Linked DNA regions of Homo sapiens: region 2 is linked to region 1. Evidence: fine-mapped expression QTL. A gene starts in region 1. The other region holds a variant in brackets. All regions are shown on one strand. Distances are from middle to middle. Region 1 holds the start of TRIM66 (tripartite motif containing 66). Region 2 has its middle 100 kb from the start of LMO1.

Region 1 (2,883 bases):
CTACCTCCCAAGCTGTGTCAATAAAAGCAGTCCAAGGACACTTACTATTTGTCGAAGTTGATCCGGTGGTGATGCAGACCACCAGCATTACCGCGGCCGCCGGGGTGCTTCCGGTGCTTGCCTGCAGGAATACAAAGCTACGTGGGGCCGGTGTGATGGCTCATGCCTGTAATCCCAGCATTTTAGGAGGACGAGGGGGGGTAGATCACCTGAGGTCAGGAGTTCGAGACCAGCCTGGCCAACACGGAGAAACCCCCGACTCTACTAAAAATAGAAAAAGAATTAGCCGGGCGTCGTGGCGCACACCTGTAATATCAGCTACTCGGGAGGCTGAGGCAGGAGAATCGCTTGAGCCCGGCAGGCAGGGGTTGCAGTGAGCCGAGATTTCGCCACTGCACTCCAGCCTGGGCGACAGTGATCAGTCTCACACACACACAAAAAAGCTACATGCACCACACAGCCTTCTCATGCATCTCAATACTTCCTCGCACAAAAGCAGAGTGTTTCCCAGACTTCTGTGTCCCGCTTACGCTGTTCCCACCCTACCGATGCCGGTTTTCAGCAATGCGATTACTTTAGGATTCCGGGTGAAACATCTTTTCAGGTTCCACATCACAGCATTCCCACAGTACTCCATGTCTTCAACTAACCCAATACCGTGCCTGCTCAATTCCTATTACCCCACTGATGTGAAATTCCTTAGAACTGGAATACTAGAGGATCGTCAGAAAAAAATCAACAGCTGTGCAACTTGACCACAAAAAGGTCTTATTCTAACCCACTTATAGGCTACCGATCTCCAGACTAGCTAAGCACCCGAAGAGAGCCCAAGGCCCACCCCGAGGGGAAGCCGGCACTTACCTATGCGGCCGTGGCCGTGGCTCACGTGGCCCCTAAGTTTCCGGGTCTTCCTCAGTCTGGATGGCTGTGTGGAAAAAGCTTGGTGGTAAGGCCTAAGGAATTAGGGGCAGGGGGCGATGCCCGCCAGCCGAGATGGTCCTGTAAGCCTGTGGGTCAAAGACCTAACTTCTGGAGCGTTTGGGAAAGCTGAGGGTACCGATCCGCTCAGGGCCGTGAGGTCTCACCACGGTAGCGCAGGGGCCCGCGTGTCCTAGAGATCCGAACCGCGGGCCTAACACACGGCTCCGGGAGCCCCGCCCCGGGCCCGCGCCGGCCACCCTGCCCCGCAGGCGGCCATGCGCAGCCTGGAAGCCCCGACCATGGTAGGGAGTGGATGACTAGGGGCAATGGGAATACAGCTTAGGGGTCTCCGCCGGCAAGGAAGAGGAGGCAAGAAACGAAACACCTACCATGTTGGCAGCCCAGACGAAAAAGGAAGGCCTTCGCCAAGTCTCGCGAGGTATCGGCCACGGGGGCGGGGCAAAACGCCTCACTTCCGGTCACAGAGGCCGGGCTTCGGGCGGGGCCTCCTGGTCTCGCGGGATTGCGCGCCTGCTAGTCGCTTCCTCTTTCTGAGGGTGGTGATCCCCCATCACGGAGTGTCCTGGTGGCGGTGTACGGTTTCGGTGAGGCTCGTTGTGCTAGGCTCGGAGGGCGAGAACTGTTGAAGAATCGGGGCTAGGTGTGCTGTACTGCACGCCGCCCGTGCTTGCTTGAGCCAGGCCCTTTTCTGGCGCCTTGGTCAGGGAACCGCCTAAGCCGACCCTAAGGGCCTCGTTGTCTGAGCTCCTCACCAAATGCGCCAGCCCTGAGCCGCCCCGCGCACCTCCACAGTTCTTAGTGGTCTGCCCGGGGCTGGTGATAGTGGCTACTGGTTTGTCTCCCGGCCGCAGTGCGGAACCGCGAGGCCCTCTTTAATCCTCAGTGTGCCCACCTGGTGTCTCGCTCGGTTTCCTGAAGCTCGGGCGGCTCCCGAAATGCCTTCTCCCGCTCTCACACTTCTGAGTGGGCACTGCAGCTTCCTTTCTCTTTTGCCCTTTTGCTATCATTTGGTTGTCCTCTCAAGTTTGAGCAACTTAAATTGCTTCAGGGACTTAGATGCCTGGTTGCTTTATGGTCCTTTTAATGCAGATGTTGTAAATACTTTTTCTAAATGCCACATTTAGGCCAGGCGCGGTGGCTCACACCTGTAGTCCCAACACTTTGGGAGGTCGAGGCGGGAGGATTTCTTGAGGCGAGTAGTTCAACACCAGCCTGGGCAACATAGTGAGACCCTCGTCTCCACATACAAAAGTAAATAAGTAAAAATAAATGCTATTTTTGAATTTTCTCCAGAATCTACATAACACGCCTGTGACCCTTTCCTGGACACAATGCAGACAGTTGCTCGCTTCCCCACCTGTACCACCACACAATCTAGTATAACCCTTATGTAATTTATTGACCTACGTTTGTCTTCCCTACTAGACCTAATTCCTTATGTGGTCAAGGACTGTTTTTTTTAATCCACACTCAACTAGTGATTGTTGAGTGAATAAATGAACTTACCCTCACCTCCCTGTCTTCGCTAATAGCAGCATGTCTTCGCTCTTAAGTCGGTTCCTTCAACCAGTGTTCAAGATCCCATCCCCTCGCTAGTCTATTAATAGATCCCATGGGAAAAATGAAATAAATTTTTAAAATCCCATCCCCTCAGTTATTCTCTGTGTGTATGTGTGAGCGTGTATTTATTTATTTTTCTTTGTCTTGCCCCCTTCAGCTAAAATATATTTTAGCTAAAATATCCAAAATTCTGGCCGGGCGTGGTGGCTTACTTCTGTAATCCCAGCACTTTGGAAGGCCGAGGCGGGCGGATCACGAGGTCAGGAGATCGAGACCATCCTGGCTAACACGGTGAAACCCCGTCTCTACTAAAAATACAAAAAATTAGATGGGCGTGGTGGTGGGCGCCTGTAGTCCCAGCTACTCGGGAGGCTGAGGCAG
Region 2 (2,937 bases), 310 kb after region 1:
GGTGTAGCTGGAGCACCAGAACGGGGCTGTTGTTAACACGGAAGGGCCTGAGACAGAGACTCAGATCAGACAACTGCCTCTCTCTGGCATCCCCCATCCAGGGCTCTGAATTCTCACTCAGAAACACTCACTGACTGAGCCTTTGGTGTGCAGGTTGGCGACAGTGTTCCTTGGGCTGGCCCCTTAGGCTAAAGCCCTAGCATCTCAAGCCTCAAAGACTAGCCCCCAGCCCCAATCCTTAGCTGTGCAGAGGGCATGCACAGCAACCAAGGTCCTGGGGCCTTGCTGGAGCTCAGCCTTTCAGGAATTTGCAAGCAGTGAGAGTTCAGAATTCTACAAATAAAGAAACTGGGGTCAGCAGGAAGAGAGATCAGGCCTGCTAAGCTCCGGCATCAGAGCTCTCTGGAACCCCACTCAGGCCAGCTGCACCCTCCCACTGGCTGCAGAGGCGGAGGAGGAGAGGAGGTGGGAGAACTGAGGCTAGGTGCTGCCCCACCCTCCCTCCCCAGGCCCCACTGCCCCCACCTGCAAGGAAGCTTTCCACACAAATGACAAAGAAGCTTCATCAGGCAGGACTCCCTTAGCCTCCTCATTCTCTGGAAGCTCCCTCTGTCCCCACTCTTAGATCTGAAGATCCCATCAGCCCCTCCCACTGCCCCTGGGGCTTCCTGGAGCTGCCTGTGCCATCGTATAGCACACCTTGGCTGGATTTTCTGATTATACACACACACACACACACACACACACACACACACACAGAGTAAAAACCCAAACACCACAGAAAACTGTAAAAATAGAAGGTAAAAAAAAAGTGACTTCACTACCCAGAGATGATAAGTGTTCATATTATCCTGACTTCAAAACACCTGCCTCTTGAGCCTTCTTTCTCTCTCAATGAATATGATTTTATGTAAATGTCATATTATAAATACACTTTAGTAACCTGCAGTTTTGTCAAAACAGTGCATAAAGGACATGTCCCCATGGCAGTGAACCGAGATGTGTATCGCGACCCTTCCATGGCTGCCCAGTAGCTCTCTCTGTCCCCTAACCGGCATTCCATACAGATGGACGCAGACGCTGATGGCTTCTGCGGTGGTAACAGCTGTGTAATGGGGCTGCCTCAGCACACTGCTCGTTTGTGTGATCAGCTCCTTTCTATAAATTCCCAGATGTGGATTTGAAGGTGAAAGGGCATGCTTATTTCATGTCTTGATCTGACCACCCAATGTCTTAAGGTGGTTGGGGCCCTCCCCGGGGGAAATGCGGTAAGTTATTTTGGATCCTGAGATTAATGGGAAGTCACTTTGAAGCAGGGAAACAAGGCTAACCAGACTGGGGCTCCTTGAGGGCAGGGGCCAAGCTCCCATCCAAGGGGAGGCAAGAACCTGCCACTCGGGCAGGGCTTCAGAACTGGAGGGGTTAATTAGAGATGGATCCAGAAATCTATAAACACCCGGAAATGACTGGCATGTGCTAATTTCTTCTTTAGTATTCACAATGGCTTTCTATTAATTAAGAAGAGACAGAGCCCAGG[G/A]GAGAGGCGACAGGCCGGGCATTCTGGCGCTGTTGGGCTGGGCAGGCTGCCCATCCTGGGTCTGCTGAGGGTGAGGGGGTAGCCAGGGCCCAGTTCGACCTTGATGGCACAGGCCAAGGACAGCATCGCTCTCAGGGACCCTCCTTGGGCAAGAGGCAACATCGTGCATGGGACAGGCAGCAGCTTTCAGGTATCTTGTTTTTGAAACTCAGTGACTGCTGGCTCTTGAGGAAACTGGGGACACAGGAGGCCCGGGTGGGGGATTAGGGTCTCCCATTTCCCAGGGAGTCCTTTCCATAGCCATGCAGGGACAGGGTGGACAGAATCCTTCCCCCATAGCTGATGGAGGAAGTGAGACTATACTGAGGTTTTTGAAGTGGGTCCACTTCTTTGGGTGTGATGGGCAGGGAGGATCCCGCCCTCTGCTGCTTGGCTGCAGGAGTAGGATTAGAGGATGGAGACCACCCTCAGTTATATCCCTCAGTCCCGCTTCATCACATGCTCGCTGCCCTTCCCTCCTGCTCCACCACCCCATAGAAGCTAGGGCTGAGCCAGAGCTCTGGCCCAAGTCACTCTGGACAGATGGGAACACCTGGAGATAGCCTGGGTTTGGGCGTGTGCACTGTGTATACGTGTGTGTGTGTGATGAGTGTGTCCACTGTCTTGTCTGCATGTTCAATGTGCATATCATTGTGTGTATGTGAATGTATGAGTGTATGTTCAAATCCCGACTATACCATTTTCAAGCCTCATGTGCCTTTGGGCAAGCTACCAAACTCTCTAGAACTCATTTTCCTCATCTGTAAAATAGGAATGGTGATAGTGCCCACTTCGTAGGGTTGCTGTGAAGATTATGTGAGTGTGTGTAGCACACTCAGAACAATCATTGTGTTTGAAAAGCATCTTTAGTCTGGAACCCCTTTCCCTTCTCTACTACTCCATTTATTTGGTGAGTTGCTACTCATTCTTCAAGACCCAGCTGAAGTTCAGGCAGCATCAGGTCCATGTCACAGTGCAGGAAGATCTACCCTTAGAGTCCTGGGCTCAGGGGCAGAACCTCAGTACCTAAAGAAGCAGAGAGGAGCCTGTGGTCCCCATATCTCATAGTCAGAACATGAATGTACAATGATGTGAACACACGTCAGCATGGGCTTGTACACATCTGTACAATGATGCGTGTATATACACAATGTATACCCACGCACTCACAATCTGCATGGATACAGGAGGTACAAATACTTTGTCCTCAGCATTTGCAGACGTAGGACTCACACACATAACCTTGGCATGCATAGTGCGCACAGATATAAGCCCTCCATTGTCTACAAACATGATGTAGAAGCAGAACTTATACACACACGCTTTGTACACATTTAGTACTTTGTTCACACATATATACA

What was found. PIP is the estimated chance that this variant, and not a neighbour inherited with it, causes the effect.
Region 2: its variant is fine-mapped to the expression of TRIM66 in transverse colon (GTEx, PIP 0.93).

The regions. Positions count from the first base shown.
Region 1 is chr11:8,681,244-8,684,126 of GRCh38, reverse strand. TRIM66 (tripartite motif containing 66) reads left to right here and starts at 1,462. Exons shown (of 25, transcript NM_001388022.1): 1 at 1,462-1,526. It overlaps RPL27A (ribosomal protein L27a), which reads right to left and starts at 1,335. Exons shown (of 5, transcript NM_000990.5): 1 at 1,311-1,335; 2 at 862-925; 3 at 46-121. The coding sequence starts at 1,313. RefSeq lists enhancers at 414-1,056, 1,383-1,572, 1,773-1,842, 706-1,905 and a silencer at 1,063-1,262.
Region 2 is chr11:8,367,117-8,370,053 of GRCh38, reverse strand. It overlaps a transcript of STK33 not described here. Among named protein-coding and RNA genes, the nearest start is that of LMO1, 100 kb to the right of the region's middle. The variant G/A (reference allele first, on the strand shown) is at 1,538.